Regions from separate parts of the Homo sapiens genome. Here regions 2, 3, 4 and 5 are each reported to be linked to region 1. The links are microRNA targets in miRTarBase. Many come from high-throughput screens and were not tested one by one. Region 1 holds a microRNA gene; each other region holds the end of a gene's coding sequence.

What was found. Region 1 holds the annotated microRNA hsa-miR-548bb-5p (AAAAGUAACUAUGGUUUUUGCC, at 1,873-1,894, opposite strand). A microRNA usually pairs through its seed, bases 2 to 8, with sites in the 3' UTR of a target mRNA and lowers its output. Matches are read on the target gene's strand: a 7mer-m8 pairs with bases 2 to 8, a 7mer-A1 pairs with bases 2 to 7 and ends in A, and an 8mer does both.
Region 2: miRTarBase lists VLDLR as a target of hsa-miR-548bb-5p. Seed matches in the 3' UTR shown: 7mer-m8 at 750-756 and 7mer-m8 at 2,050-2,056.
Region 3: miRTarBase lists PTCHD1 as a target of hsa-miR-548bb-5p. The part of its 3' UTR that is shown has no 7-base or 8-base seed match.
Region 4: the mRNA of EBNA1BP2 is a reported target of hsa-miR-548bb-5p. Seed matches in the 3' UTR shown: 7mer-m8 at 800-806.
Region 5: the mRNA of KLRC3 is a reported target of hsa-miR-548bb-5p. Seed matches in the 3' UTR shown: 7mer-m8 at 605-611.

Annotation. Positions count from the first base shown.
Region 1 is chr3:60,615,965-60,619,225 of GRCh38, forward strand. It overlaps MIR548BB (microRNA 548bb), which reads right to left and starts at 1,906; the gene lies at 1,841-1,906. The region is part of intron 4 of FHIT (fragile histidine triad diadenosine triphosphatase); the gene reads right to left. It also overlaps the pseudogene MTERF1P1.
Region 2 is chr9:2,653,279-2,656,539 of GRCh38, forward strand. VLDLR (very low density lipoprotein receptor) reads left to right here. Exons shown (of 19, transcript NM_003383.5): 19 at 555-3,261. The coding sequence ends at 590. The region is part of intron 2 of LOC105375957 (a long non-coding RNA gene); the gene reads right to left. Among named protein-coding and RNA genes, the nearest start is that of VLDLR-AS1, 33 kb to the left of the region's middle.
Region 3 is chrX:23,393,556-23,396,816 of GRCh38, forward strand. PTCHD1 (patched domain containing 1) reads left to right here. Exons shown (of 3, transcript NM_173495.3): 3 at 1-3,261. The coding sequence ends at 630. Among named protein-coding and RNA genes, the nearest start is that of PTCHD1, 60 kb to the left of the region's middle.
Region 4 is chr1:43,161,804-43,165,064 of GRCh38, reverse strand. EBNA1BP2 (EBNA1 binding protein 2) reads left to right here. Exons shown (of 9, transcript NM_006824.3): 8 at 260-422; 9 at 572-881. The coding sequence ends at 622. Among named protein-coding and RNA genes, the nearest start is that of MIR6733, 8.3 kb to the left of the region's middle.
Region 5 is chr12:10,409,765-10,413,025 of GRCh38, reverse strand. It overlaps KLRC3 (killer cell lectin like receptor C3), which reads left to right. Exons shown (of 7, transcript NM_002261.3): 7 at 410-711. The coding sequence ends at 454. KLRC4-KLRK1 (KLRC4-KLRK1 readthrough) reads left to right here and starts at 2,880. Exons shown (of 13, transcript NM_001199805.1): 1 at 2,880-2,927.

The DNA of each region.
Region 1 (3,261 bases):
GAAGTCTTCCTCATTGCTGTACATTGAGAGATGTCCCTGCTTTCCTTATCGAAACTCTGATCTGTCTATGAGTTATTAACACCCTTGTCAGTAATATCACTTGTCATTAGGTCACAATTCTTGGGACTACCATTGTCTAGGTTCTTCTATTCCACATGCTTTGTTTCTGTGCATGTTGAGTCCAACATGTGTGTATATTTTAGGTAGTGTCACCTGTTTGGATATCCACAAGACCTATTTACACAACACCTGTTACAAAAACTCACCCCAGATGTTTTCTTGTTTGTTCAGTTTAATTTATTATACAAATCTTCACATTTGAAAATATAAGCAAAAGTGATTCTAAGCCACTACAGGAAATTCACAAAAGCAACACCTGGTGTCAACATATTTCATCACATTTTAATGATTATGATGTGCACAGGTGTGCTGAAAGTTTCTCCTCCATACTCTTTGATTCTTTTTTAAAATTTTTTTAATTATACAAGTAATACACTTCTAGAACTAATAAGCAATCATAGCAAGCTTGTGGGACAAAAGTTAATATACAAAGTCAATTGTCTTCTTATTGCTAGCAATGAACAATTGGGACTTGAAATTAAAAACACAATACCATTTACATTAATGCCAAAAATTTAAATACTTAGGTATAAATCAAACGTGAAAGATCTATATAAGGAAAACTATAAAACTTTGCTGAAAGAAATACAAAAGATCTAAGAAAAAGGAAAGCTATCCACATACGCAGACAGGAAATCTCAATATTGTCAAGATATCAGTTCTTCTCAACTTGACCTATACATTCAATGCAACCTCAGTTTTAAAAATCCCAAGCCAAAGTAAAAGCCATCTACGGCACACAGCATTCCGAAAGGTTTGGGCTACCTGACTATTATGGCACCAAGAAATCTCTGGTATATGAGAACTTTCACTTTAATTCAAAATGTTGGATGACCTGATTTTCAGCAGAAATGCTCTTCAAATCAGTTTCACTTAGGCTTTTTGGTGTGAAGTGAAACGATGCAGACAATGAGCTTTGGAGAATGAGGAACCACTGAATAACTTACTATGGAAGTGGATACTGACATGGCAAAGAAACGACAGCCTGGAGTTTTTAACAGAATGTTCCCAATGAGCAGGACCTGAAGATGTTTCTTCGTTCCAAAGGAGCTAGCAAAGAAGTGATTGTTAGCATCATATCAAAATAACTAAAAGCTATAACACACACTCTTGAACGTCTTTCAAAACAATGGGATCTATGAAGGATTATGATATCAGATCTTGATACTGTAAATATTTTGGGCCATTCTCCTGAATGCTTTCTTTTGTCCCATGAAAACCTAAACTTAGGGATTCTATGAGTTCCTCTACTCAGCTGGATTTACCTGTAAATGCCTTTGTTGATTGTTGACCAATGTCCCTTGTACCTTTTCCAATAGTCTCGATCTGAATAAACAGATGGTTAAAGTTTTGCAGGAAGTATATTTTTCATTGGGTCACAATGATCCCACAGATTTTGTAAGAAAGATGATTTTTTAAAACCCTTTCATCTTAATTCAGGGTACCAAGCAGGTAAAAACTAACATTGAATTTTTACAGGCAAGTTTCAATTTGAACAGTAGGGAATTGCTATTTTAATATGTGGTCCAGGAACCAAAATCCTAGACCTTTCCAATGACTATGCCAAAACAAACTACACAAATATCAAACAGAAGCTGTTTTCTCTCTGAGGTACTGAAGAAGAGGTACAAAAGCTTGCCTTAAGTTATCCAGATGTGGGGAAAAAAAGTTATCCAGATGTGATCTTTTGGCAGAGAAAAAGTTTAGTGAGAAGAATATTTTAGCTTGGTGCAAAAGTAACTATGGTTTTTGGGCAAAAACCATAGTTACTTTTGCACCAATCTAATGGATTGTCTCATAGAATAATAAATTAGCCTTCTGTGAAAGTAATTTGTGATAACTGAAAAATCCTTGGGTTCTGGATTCAAGCATAAGTACTTTATAAAGTCAAATCAAAGAATTAGTAAATGCTGGCTGTAACTTGAGGACATCAAGCATCACTCTTCTACTCTGGAGTTAAAAAAAAAAGATACAAAGTAAATTTAAAAAGTTAAGCAGAACACTGGGGAATTTTTGAAAGCCAGTCATATAATGTAGTGGTATCTTTTCATTTTGAATTTGGGCCTTTCAAAAAGGAGGGGTATGATTTCTTAACCACAGATATATATATGTAATAATTCTTTGGCTATTTTGTTTTACAGGTTTATGGAAACTCATGGTTGATATGCTCAGGTGCAGTCCTCCTAGCTACCTATTTTCCAGTTTGAATTACTCCAACATACCATTATTTGATACAGGCTGTGCTGCTGTAGAGATGGTAGTGCCATGGTGATTTGCTACACAGATCATCCCATCACCTAGGTATTAAGCCCAGCATCCATTAGTTACTCTTCCTTATGCTCTCCCTCCCAGCAGCACCCCTCCAACAGGCCCCAGTGTGTGTTGTTCCCTCCATGTGTTGACGTGTGCTCATTATTCAGCTCCCTGTTGTAAGTGAGAACATGTGGTGCTTGGTTTTCCGTTCCTGCGTTAATTTGCTGAGGGCAAAACCTGATTACTTTGAAAACAAGTTCTACTGTGGCAGGCAGAATCATGGCCACACCTAAAGATGTCAACGTTTTAATTTGAAGAAGCTGCGAATATGTTATGCAAAAAGATTTTGCAAATGTGATTAAGTTGAAATTTGATTAAGTTAAGGGCCTTGAGATGACCTTGAATCATCTGAGTGGACCTAATATAATGCTAAGGGTCCTTAAAAGTGGAAGAAGGAGGCAAAAGAGGTCAGAATGATGCTGTATAAGACAGACTTGACCACTTTGAAGGAGGTGAAAAGGAGGCTTTGAAGAAGGAAGGGACCATAAGCCAAAGAATGCAGGGGGCCACAAAGAAAACTGAAAAGCCAATGAAACAGAATCTCCCCTAAAGGCCCCAAAAAGGAATGCAGTACGGCTGGTACCTTTTCAGCCCAGTGGGCCCAGTATCATACTTCTGTCCTACAGAACCACAGGATGATAAATTTGTGTTGTTTGAAGCCACTGAGTCTGATAATTTGTTACAGCAGCAAAGATTAACATAGCAACTAAGTAGATGATTTGTTGCATTATAGGTGGTCACAAAATACAATCCTTTAGTATCATGTATTTTTTCCTCTTACAAGAGTAATTACATTTAAAAAAGCTATCTACTGTTCTAGAATCACTG
Region 2 (3,261 bases), not on the chromosome of region 1:
AAATTAGCATATCATATATAGGGGAGTTGGCTTAAAGTCAGTGTATTGAGTAAGATTCACTTAGCCAAAATTATTATATGCTTTGCTTTAAAAAGGTATCCCACCGCCCTTAGTATAGCTAGCTTTTCTTCCAGCAATAGTCACTCACTTGTTCTTCAGATGAAACCCAAGTGGAGTATTTGGCCTTCACGTAGGAAACAGGCTGAACAAAACAAGTATTGATCACTCCCCTCTCAAACTCCGGTGAAACATGGAACAGTGGTCAATTCTTGACACACACATGGCTTTTCACATTTTTCCCCAAGACTTATGATCATTAAGTAGAAAAGACAGAATTAGTCACACTATCTTATCTCACTACCAAGCAGGTATAGTTGAATTCAAGTTAAATGCATGAATGATACAACTCAGTATTCTTTTGTATCTGACTGACTTTTCTTCTAAGCACTCTGAGTGTTTGAATGACCAACTCAAAAGCAAGGTCCATTTTAAAGACTAGAGTTGCCATCAGTGAGTGATCACCAAGCTCATTCTATACTTCTTCTTTTCCACAGATATCAGTTGTAAGCACAGATGATGATCTAGCTTGACTTCTGTGACAAATGTTGACCTTTGAGGTCTAAACAAATAATACCCCCGTCGGAATGGTAACCGAGCCAGCAGCTGAAGTCTCTTTTTCTTCCTCTCGGCTGGAAGAACATCAAGATACCTTTGCGTGGATCAAGCTTGTGTACTTGACCGTTTTTATATTACTTTTGTAAATATTCTTGTCCACATTCTACTTCAGCTTTGGATGTGGTTACCGAGTATCTGTAACCCTTGAATTTCTAGACAGTATTGCCACCTCTGGCCAAATATGCACTTTCCCTAGAAAGCCATATTCCAGCAGTGAAACTTGTGCTATAGTGTATACCACCTGTACATACATTGTATAGGCCATCTGTAAATATCCCAGAGAACAATCACTATTCTTAAGCACTTTGAAAATATTTCTATGTAAATTATTGTAAACTTTTTCAATGGTTGGGACAATGGCAATAGGACAAAACGGGTTACTAAGATGAAATTGCCAAAAAAATTTATAAACTAATTTTGTACGTATGAATGATATCTTTGACCTCAATGGAGGTTTGCAAAGACTGAGTGTTCAAACTACTGTACATTTTTTTTCAAGTGCTAAAAAATTAAACCAAGCAGCTTAACCATGGTTTGTGCCTGTTCCTCTAGGATGAACTCCTATCCTGAGTAGTACCAAGTGTTCTAACTAAATGTGTGAGCTGTAGTTCTTGATGTTGTATAACTAAGCCTGTAATTGGGCTGGTTTCTCTTACACCCTAGCACAGTTAAAAAATGAAGTACTGTTTAACATTTGCTCCCGAAATATTTCTTACTGTGTAAAAGAAGCTAGCTTAGTCTGTACCTAGAATTCCTCTTGGTTAGAGGAGTGAGTTTCTTTTTTTTCCATTAACTTGTTTCCTGATCGAGAAACACGTGCTAAGATTTCTATGAATTCTGCTTCTTTATAGTTAAGTCTCTGTTTTCCATGTTCTGTCATTTATATAGGTCAAGGACAAGTGCCTTCTAAGGCATGGATAAGGGCTTTCTTCTTATGAAAGTCTAGACTGTCTTACTGTGAAGATGGCCAGGGAGGATAGCAAGCAATGGCATTCTTGAACAGTCTAAGGCAGGTTTCTCAGTGTGGTCCTGAGAACAGAAGCATCTGCATCACCTGGGAATGTATTAGAAATGCAAGTTCCCAGCCCCATCCCAGACCTACTGAATCAGAAACTCTGGGGGCGAGGGCTGAAACCTGCTTTCATAAGCCCTTCAGGCGATACTGATGTAAACTAAAGCTTAAAAACCACCGTTTTACTGTGACTTCATGAAGAATATAATTGCAATATCACCTAAATTTTTATCCTGGCTGGGATGGGGCAGATTCTTACTATGGACAATTTCTGGAACTTACAGTATGAAGAGCAGATGAGGAGTTTGAGACAAAGAAAAAATTGTACAGGGAGTTTAGTGAATTTTCCATCAGGTTGGCCATTACTTTCTTTCTCTAAAGTCTCAGGATGTCTGGAAGCAAGGAAAGACAAAAGACTTGAAGCACCGGGTGCATGCTGTGTGTCACAAGTGAGGTGGAGAGTTGGCTGTGGAAGGTACAGCAATTCCTCTGGAATTAAATGACCGACCAACACAGTACCAAGAGGATGAAGAGAAGATGTTTTGCGTTGCTACGTGAATCAGTGGATGACTCATATTTCACTTGCATATGAAATATAAGGCAGTTAACATCTTGTTTGTGGCTTAAGCAAGGACATTAATCCTACTAGATGAAGGGGAAGTTGGTTCTGTTGTCTTAAGGGATGCCCCCTTGTGATTTTGGTCAACTGAATGAAAAAGAAAAGATAGCCTTGGACTTTTTTTTCATGGGAGGTTTGGAGGTCAAGCATGTAGAAGGAAAAGGCTGTAGTCATGAATATAGAACTGTCTGCTCTCCACCTTTTCCTCACTCTACATTTAGTCATCACACTGAACAGGATGTGGCCTGCTGACAGTGAGTAGCTGAAGTGCCTGTTTGGTAAGTAGGTTAGCATTCATCATGAACTCTGAAAGCCATTTCAGAGTTTGGCTGCTGCTCTGACCCTGCTGTGGTACAAAAAACATGGATTTTTTTTTTTTTAACTGGAGTAATACCAAATTCCCTTTAGAAGCTTGAAGTTTGATACTATTGCTTTCCCCATTATAAGGATTATACAGTATTAATTAATTATAAGGCCCAAAGTTTGTTTTGGCAAATAAAGTATTATTCTCTATCATCATCTTTTGAATTCCTGTCCCTAGTATGTTCTTTCATGTTCTGGGTAAAATTTCCAACCCTCAAAGAGTCTAAAACGTCTCATTTTTTTTTACCACGTCCTCCCCAGTAAGAAGCCAAGGTACAACTCATTGTACCTACGAGGTACAAACTCATTTGTAGAAACAAAGTAACTAGATATTCCTATTGAAATAAGAATAGATATATTGGTGGGCCAGGCATGGTGGCTCACGCCTATAATCCCAGCACTTTGGAAGGCCAAGGCAGGAGGATCACTTGAGGCCAGGAGTTCGAGACCAGCCTGAGCAACATGGTGAGACCCTGTCTCTACAAAAAAAAAATTTATAAAAATAAAAGAAAAAAATAGTTATATGACTAAACTACTAGTCAATACAGCTTGCAATAATAGTGCATGAATGATAACAGGCCTCGGCTTTATC
Region 3 (3,261 bases), not on the chromosome of region 1:
ATCGTCTTCAATCCGTCCTTTGTATACATGGATCGATATGCCTCCTCTCTGGGAGCCCCCCTGCACAACTCCTGCATCAGTGCTTTGTTCCTGCTCTTCTTCTCGGCATTCCTGGTGGCAGATTCACTGATTAACGTCTGGATCACTCTCACAGTTGTGTCCGTGGAGTTTGGAGTGATAGGTTTCATGACATTATGGAAAGTAGAACTGGACTGCATTTCTGTGCTATGCTTAATTTATGGAATTAATTACACAATTGACAATTGTGCTCCAATGTTATCCACATTTGTTCTGGGCAAGGATTTCACAAGAACTAAATGGGTAAAAAATGCCCTGGAAGTGCATGGGGTAGCTATTTTACAGAGTTACCTCTGCTATATTGTTGGTCTGATTCCTCTTGCAGCTGTGCCTTCAAATCTGACCTGTACACTGTTCAGGTGCTTGTTTTTAATAGCATTTGTCACCTTCTTTCACTGCTTTGCCATTTTACCTGTGATACTGACTTTCCTGCCACCCTCTAAGAAAAAAAGGAAAGAGAAGAAAAATCCTGAGAACCGGGAGGAAATTGAGTGTGTAGAAATGGTAGATATCGATAGTACCCGTGTGGTTGACCAAATTACAACAGTGTGATAATGTCTGCTTGGCATATTTTCACCTTAGGTCTTATCAAGACCAAAGAGATTATGTTAATGAAACAATTAAATTCAAAGTTCTTCCCTTTTTTAAAGATAGGAAACAGGCATTGCCAAAAAAAAAAAAAAAAAAAAAAGGAAAGGACAGTGGGGAGAAATGGGCCTGGCATATTTTCAGTCTTTAAAACAAAGGAGTTGTTATGAGAATTCACACACACATAGACACACACACACACACACACACACACACACACACACACACACCCTGGGAGACCTATAGTCTCTTAAACTAAGATCAAGTAGAAGAAAGCTTATTAACAAGCAGGATCCTGCCTTATCCAAACTGCAGATGTTGCTGGCATTGTGACAAAACCCACTGATTGAAAGGTCAACTGCCAAGGCAGAAACACCTTTAAGCATTGTTCAAACAATAAGGCTTCCAGAACTTCTGTAGAGCAGTAGCTCCAGTCATGGTCTGTGGTTTGAGGTTTTAGCTGTCTCACCTAGCTCCCTAACACTGAAGGAGATACTTGTGAAAGTTCTGACCAGCAAAAGCAAGCCAGAGCCTTGGAAACTGATATGTGGTAGAGTGGCCATCACTCATGGACTAAAATTGATTCACCGCTAAATTTACCCAGGTGAAGCAGTTTCGTTGTCTAGAATGAAATTATCATATTCCGCCATTGGTATGCCTTTAACATTTGTATAGTTTGGTTTGCTTAAAACACCTTAAAACCAATGACAGCTCCAGCACTGCAGAATTGGTGTGATTCTACTTTGGAATAGCTTGTCACTTGTCACCAAATGGGTCTGCTTTATTAGTTACAGCTCTTGGCAGGAGGATCCAGGGACCCAAAACCACAGGGCCAAACCCAAATACCTGGCATGATGGAGCAAAAGCAGGTGTCTACTTGGACCCAGATATAGTGTCTCCATTTTAACAACAACAACAAAATAGCCAGCTGGTACAGCTGTTTGCATTGGCCCTACATGCATTTTTTGCATGGATATCCAGAAACATCTGCCCACACAAAACTGCGGGGAAAAAAAATGAACACTGAAATAGTTATTTGCTGTTGCTTCCAACTTGTAGTGCCAGTCTGCCTTTGCTGTGAAACACACCTGCTCAGAGACAGAGAGGGGAAGAAGATCTTTGGTAAGTCTAAGTCCTGACGCTGAGAAGCTTTGTAAAAGTGCAGGGAGATAAAGGGCCAAAAGGGAGATAGATGGAAAACACTGGAAAAAGTATTCACTGATACAAATCTATCAATGATGGCAGTCCAATTCTCTTGCTAAAGTGGCTGCACCTCACCTTGCTGGTCCCCCCCACACCTTTTTTGATGTCCTTCTGCGTCATCATAGCAAGGCCCTTCTGTAAATTAACAAGCCTAGATATTTATACTCTTGACTTCCAGTATCTACAGAAGAATGGTTCATAGATCTAAACAGAAATGGTTTAGATCTAAAAAGGCTGTATACGTTGCCCAGGCCCCTGCATTTCTTTAAATTTATAAAAATGAAGCTAAAACCTGGTTACATTTGAAGCAAATATCTACAGTATTTTTCCCTTTTAGAGATGTAGCTTCCTTAGACATCTGTAGTGGTAAGCATTTCCCAAAAGCATCTTACCTTTCTGAACCTTAGCAGACATACTGTGCAGCTTACCTATCTTCTGCAGAGGAGGAAACTGAGACCTAGGAGAATAAAGTGACTCACTCAGGTCACACCACTAAAGGGTTTTCATCATTTCAGCATACCTAAGACAGGGCAGTCCAATTTTCAGTATTCTCATAAGATGGCTATTACTCCTCTCAAAATGCATTTCCAAAGTAGGAACATAGGACTTCGTTGGCCACAGGGCAGACATTTTTTTAGTGTCTGGAATTAAAATGTTTGAGGTTTAGGTTTGCCATTGTCTTTCCAAAAGGCCAAATAATTCAGATGTAACCACACCAAGTGCAAACCTGTGCTTTCTATTTCACGTACTGTTGTCCATACAGTTCTAAATACATGTGCAGGGGATTGTAGCTAATGCATTACACAGTCGTTCAGTCTTCTCTGCAGACACACTAAGTGATCATACCAACGTGTTATACACTCAACTAGAAGATAATAAGCTTTAATCTGAGGGCAAGTACAGTCCTGACAAAAGGGCAAGTTTGCATAATAGATCTTCGATCAATTCTCTCTCCAAGGGGCCCGCAACTAGGCTATTATTCATAAAACACAACTGAAGAGGGGATTGGTTTTACTGTTAAATCATGTGTTGCTAAATCATTTTCTGAACAGTGTGTTCTAAATCAGTCATTGATTTAGTGTCAGCCACGTGGAGCACCTCGGCTTAAAGCAGCTCCACAAAACCTGACACAACACACACACCAATTAAATGGATTTTGTTGAGAATTTAATCATTCAATTTGGTCAACCAGAATGACTTCCTGTGGAACTCTGTTTTATGACAGATAATAGTTTTCCAACTTGATTGAGTCTCTGTATACCCTGGGATATTGTATTTTTTAATGAAGGGCATTTTCAAACTTGTCAACTTCTCTTTTCAGCACTTGAAATGAAGGCTTATGGAATTCTGACTGTGAAATGAATTTTTCTATTGGGAGATTATGCATGCCAA
Region 4 (3,261 bases), not on the chromosome of region 1:
AGCCATGTAATATATGTAGAGCCTTCCCTGCTTCTTGCTTTATTTTCCTGCCCTGGTGGTCAAAACTGTAAATAGGTGAGCTAGATGAGTTTGTCTAGAGAGGCTGTAGCATAGGATTGTGGGGCCAAGGATGAGATTCTGGGTTACAGACGTGCCTAAGGGGCTTTGCTTATAGAAAGGAAACTGAGAGCATTGCTGGGCCATCAGGTTCATCAGGCTTTACAGTGCTGTAGTGATGTCTAGGACCATTCTTTTCCAGGCCCAGTGCTAAACGACGGTATAAAAACCAGAAGTTTGGTTTTGGTGGAAAGAAGAAAGGCTCAAAGTGGAACACTCGGGAGAGCTATGATGATGTATCTAGCTTCCGGGCCAAGACAGCTCATGGCAGAGGCCTCAAGAGGCCTGGCAAGAAAGGGTCAAATGTAAGTGAGCCCAGGTGCCCGGGTGAGGAGCAGGCTCAGCCTCCCCTCCCACTCCCAACCCTGCCCTCTCCCTTCAGTTCTGTTCGTCCTCACCCTGGGGCAGAAGGCAAGCTGCTATGTGACCAGATGTGGTATGTCTTTTTCTGTAGAAGAGACCTGGAAAACGAACAAGAGAGAAGATGAAGAACAGAACACACTAAATAGCATCTTTGAATACAAAGAACCAAGAAAAAGGAATGAAGACTCGCAATTTCACGACACACTTTGATCCCTTCTGTTGGTGTCATGTTGTAAACATTTCTTTCAATAAACTAAAGAAAAATTATTAAAGGAACACATACCTTTGGTTAAATAGTCTAGACTAAAAGATTGAGAAGTTACTTTCCATTGCTATCTATTGATAATTTAGACATTGAGTTCAAATTGCCTTCATTTTATGATAAATAATGATTTAACTGACACCTTCTCATTTCCTTTGTCTCATCCTTCTAAATAGTTATATTACGATCAATCCCTGTAAAGCTCAATGCCCATATTTTACAGGTGTGAGCCACCGTGATTTTCTTTGTGGTACAGCTTTTGGTTTTTCCTCCAGTTAACCTTCACCTTACATTCTTCTGCTTGCCTAATTTTCCTTCTATATTCTTAGTTCTTTCCAGATGCTTTGTCATTTTACCCACTTTATAATTTTTCTCCTACAACCTAGTTATGCCACACAACTGTCACCTTTTTTCTAGACCGTTTAAGTTGGCACCATTATTTCCAGAATCCCATGTTTTCCCATCTTAGCATATGCCTTCTTTTGCTGTGTACCATTTTTTGGTATCTTACTAAGAAAGGGAAGATGAGAGGTAAACTTTTTATCTCCTTGCATTTCTGAAATTGCCTTTAATTTGGGCTGATAGGAATTTCCTCCTTAGAATTTTAGAATTTCGCAGGCACTGTTTTTAAGTTTTATTTCAGTTCTACTTTTGGGGGGAGATATATTTTTGTTTTTTAAAATCTTTTTTTTTTTTTTTTTTTTTTTTTGAGACACAGTCTCACTCCATCGCCCAGGCTGGAGTGCAGTGATACAATCTTGGCTCACTGCAACCTCCACTTCCCAGGTTCAAGTGATTCTGCCTAAGCCTCCTGAGTAGCTGGGATTACAGGCGTGCGCCACCACACCCAGCTAATTTTTGTATTTTTAGTAGAGACAGGGTTTCACCACGTTGGCCAGGCTGGTCTCAAACTCCTGACATCAAGTGATCCACCTGCCTCTTCCTCCCAAAGTGCTGGGATTACAGGCGTGAGCCACCATGCCCGGCCTAAAATCATTTTATTGAATATGAAGTTTAGCTTTCATTTCATTTATCCCCCAAGAGTTTCTTATTCTCTATTTGGTCATTTTTCATATCATTTTACTCTTATCCTCTAGATGCAGTATCTTATATCTCTCAGAATATGATTATAGTTTTAATTTTTTTGATAAAGTTTCCCTCTGTTCCCTTCATTCTGTTTCTGCAGCCCATGCATTTTGATCTCCTCTTTCCCGTGTTTGAGCAGTAGAGTATTGTAGAAGCTAAGAAGCGTGGATTCTGGGGCCTGGCTGTGTTGCTTACTTGCTGTTTGACCGTAGGGAATTTAATTTTTATTTGCCTTGTCATCTCTAGCATAATGTAGATGTATCTACCTCATTGGGTTCCTGTCAGTATTCGGTTAATCAATGTAAAACACTTAGAACATTATCCTAATATAATCCGATAATCTGATAATCCTCTCATATTCCTTTGATTAGGATTGTTTTGCTGGGGTTTCTTTCCTTAATATCTGGCAAGCCTTGGTTGTTCATACATAAGCGGAAGCTCTGCGTAGGTGGTACATTGAGTAGGCAGGCCACATTAATTGTTGGGCTTTACTCTGTGTTGATAGGGTGGTAAACCATTTTACCTGCCCCTTCTCTCTCCATTCCAGTTTAGAAATCATACTTTATTTTTAAAGAAGTTAGAAATGCCTGAGAGCTATATAGTATCTTTAGCAGAAAGAATAATTTATTTTCACATTTTCTTGTAGCATTATTGGCACATGAAAAGGATATTTCTGGATTCATATAATACTAAGATTGTAATGTAGAACAAAGAGAATTTAGTTTTTGTAAACTAATTTCAACTAACAAAACTGGTCACACAGGTCATATCAAGAAGACAAAAATATTTACTCTGTCCTCTTTCATAATTCATGCCATATTATTGAATGGGGATAATGTGTAACAGGCTCAGAAGCAGTTTGAGACTTTGAATTATGCAAGTAAATATTGAGAGTTTCACAAAAGAAAGCACAGGTTAACAACATTTCACATTGATAAAGCCAAAAGTAAGTTTTTAATAACAACATACCTCTAAAGGCTTTCTTGAAAACTATGTCCCCCCTCTTTTACTTCTTGTTTTTTTCTCTTTTTTATTACAGAGCAAAGATTTACATATGGACTCACTTTCCTTAGTTTTAGAAATATCCTCTGTAGAACTCATTTACATCACTTCTATCATTCCAACCCTCAAAATAAAGGGTGATCAAGGTGCAGGTAGCATTATGCCTTCTTTTTCTTTTTGTATAGACAGGGTCTCACTCTATTGCCCATGCTGGATTACAGTGATGTGATCATAGCTCACTGTATCCTCAAACTCCTTGGCTCAAGCAATCCTCCTGCCTCAGCCTCCCAAGTAGCTGGGACTACAAGTGCATGCCACTATGCCTGGCTAGGTGTTTTTATTTATTTATTTATTTATTTATTTATTTATTTATTTATTTATTGTAGGGACAGGGTCTTGCTCTATTGCCTAGGCTGGTCTCAAACTTCTGG
Region 5 (3,261 bases), not on the chromosome of region 1:
TGAAATTGAGTATCCGTGTGAGTATATGTGTGTGAATGCATTCATATGAGTGATGGTTACTTGTCTAGTTTAAATCTTTCTATAGGCTCACTGGCCTGTCTTGTATTAAGCATCAAGAGAAGAGTCTTTAAAAATCCCATTTATGATTGTTTACTTGTTCACTTTATTCAACTATATGTTGAACTTGTATCATTAGGTATATGCAATGATAAAAAATATATTACTAATGGTTTGGAAAATTAATTTATCATTATGAAGTATATTTCCCCAATTTCAGTAAATTTCATCTCGGCTCACTGCAGCCTCGACCTCACCTCCAAGGCTCAAGCGATCCTCCCACCTCAGCAACCAGAGTAGCTGGCTACAGGCCAATACCATCATGCTGGCTAATTTTCGTATTTTTTTGTAGAGACGGGGTTTCATCATGTTGACCAGGCTGGTCTTGAACTCCTGAGCTCAAGAAATCAACACATCTTGGCCTCCCAAGTTGCTGGGATTACTGACACAAGCCACCGCCCCTGAGTGCTCATGTACCATTTAGCTTGTGTTTTAAAAATCTACTTTTTCTGCCCTCCCTATTTTTAACTAGATGATGTTTTAAAAATTACTTTTCCCTCTCTATATAGTTTGATTTAAGCATTAGTCATTTACAACAAATATTAATATTAAAATGCAGACCGTTATGATTGGAAAATAAATCAATGAACAATATAATGAGTGGTTTTTATATATTTCAATCTCTGGCGTGGTGATATAGTACAATATTTTTTAATTATTTATTCTTCCCAGAGACATATATTTCAATGAGAGTTATCTGATTAATTTATTTTTAAAAAACTGAATGAGAGAATTTTAAGAACTATCAAGAAAGTAAGTTGGGAATTTAACTTTGAGAATTGATGTCAATTACAATGAAGTGGAAATGTATTTTCTCAGAATAATTAGTGACAAATACATTAAATTCCTATTGGTAAGATTATTATTTTAAAAATTTATCGTCATATTAGCAGTGATATTATAGGGGTATATGATAAAGAAGTACGTAATCCCAAGTTTTAGCCACCCTGTGTAAATGTAGAAGTTAAACATGTAAGAGACTCTGAAAAAGGTATAAGATTTTAGTGTTTGTGATTGAGATGGAAACAACTGCATGGGTAGTAGTCTTTGTTCTCCCCAAATCTTGTTTACTATAAAAATAATTTCTAAAAGTCACTTGAAAATGGACAAACTAAATGACACCCTAGCAGCTCAGTCTCTTATATTCTGAGGTGTATGATGAGATAAACTGATTCAAAATGGCCCTAGTGTGAAAACTTCCTGTTCAAATCCGAAGTGATACATTGATGAGGAATCTGCTTTTTGCACTCTTGCCTCACTCTGAGCTTTCACAGGGCAGTCTGTGAAGATCAGAGATATCTGTTTTTTGTTTTTTGTTTTTTTCTGAGACAGAGTCTCGCTCTGTCGCCCAGGCTGGAGTGCAGTGGCTCCCGATCTCAGCTCACTGCAAGCTACGCCTCCCGGGTTCAACCGTTCTCCTGCCTCAGCCTCCCAAGCAGCTACAGGCGCCCGCCACCACACCCGGCTAAGTTTTTGTATTTTTAGTAGAGACGGGGTTTCACCGGATCACAGATGTCTTTTGTGTCGTTAAGAGGTAACCTGACCTCTCCACTAAGGGGCGTGTGACTTTCTGATGACAGAAGGTATGTGTTGCTAGTCTCCTGTTTCTCTACTAGCTCATCTCCTTTAGTAGAAAATTGTAAATATTAAATGTGATGCAACAAGGTAAAGTTAATACAGAATAAAATCAAAGTAGAACTGTCTGTACATGAATAATTCAGGGTGAAAAGCAACCCAAAATATAATATATGTTTGAGGATTTCTTAAAGTATTTACATTATTGCCTGTGGAGAATTAGTCAAGCACATGCATACATCATAATAGGTTTGTTAATCAATATAATTTAGAGTGAAACCGATAAATATCACGACAATGAAGAATTAATTTGAAATTTTATAATCATTATAGATGTAATAATACTTTATATTTAGCCCAGACTTTAAAAATGCATTTTTAATGGATACATCAAATTGTGAATGTCAAACATAATTTCTCATACACATACTTATATTTAATTGAAGCAGATTTTATTTTTTTAAGAATGTAATAATGAAGTAGTTTCCATAAAATGCAAATCTAAACTTAATTATAAATAATAGGACGACCTAAAAAAAATTGAGCCAAACAAACATTGCAAAAAAGATGTACTACACTGACATGAGACTCCTACCTCATTAGTTATTTTACACACTCAGTATGAATTAGAAATAATAAAATGGCAATTGTGTTAAAAATAATTAAAATATCTAATATGTATTGAGGACTAATGTGTGCCAGGTTGTATGTTAAGGGTTTTATATACATTATACTTCATAAATTATTTTCCCCAATCTAGATTAGTAAACTGGTGTTGTAGACACCAAGTAACTTTGTAAAGGTCATGCATTATGAGTTTCAAAGCTGTAATTAATTTTAGGTCTCACTGGCTACAGAGCTCATTGACTAGATTATTAAATTATATTTTCTGATTTATTACAATTACTTACACAACCAAAGTGACCCTCGCTGCCTTTTAAAACAACCACAGGGTCTTTCTGAAAGTTTGAACTTAAAGTGTTCTTTCATAGATGGTCCAAACTTATATTTATCATTTTCAGTTTTCCTATTTTAGTCATTAAATCAATTACCAATCAATTCTGTAAAATAAAGAGTTAAATCTTTTTCAGTAGTATTTAGTTTATGCATAAGTTAATGTAATGTTTTACAAGGTATAAAATATTTCTTTAAAATTTTAACAATTTTTCTGTTTTCCTCAATCATTCAGAATAAAAAACATTTGCCAAGACCTCATGCCCTTTTAGTAAACGAATGTAAGTCACTAACTTAATGTATTTTAGTATTAAAAGTTGTTCTATATGCCAACAAATTATTCCTCCATCTTTAGCGCTCAATCCTTACATTAATGAATTTTAAAATTGTCATACAATTAGTGCATTTTATTTTCAAATTTCAATTTTAGTTTTTTACACAGGTATTCTATTGGTGATAAAATATTTCTGTAGAATCTGATTTTAAATTAATAAAGATATTTATATTCAGTTACTTCTTAGTTTTCACAAATGTATTGTTTTTTATTGTTCCCATTAATAATATTATGTCAAATATAGAAGGCCTTTTAAAAAGTGACCTATTGTTTAAAGAGAT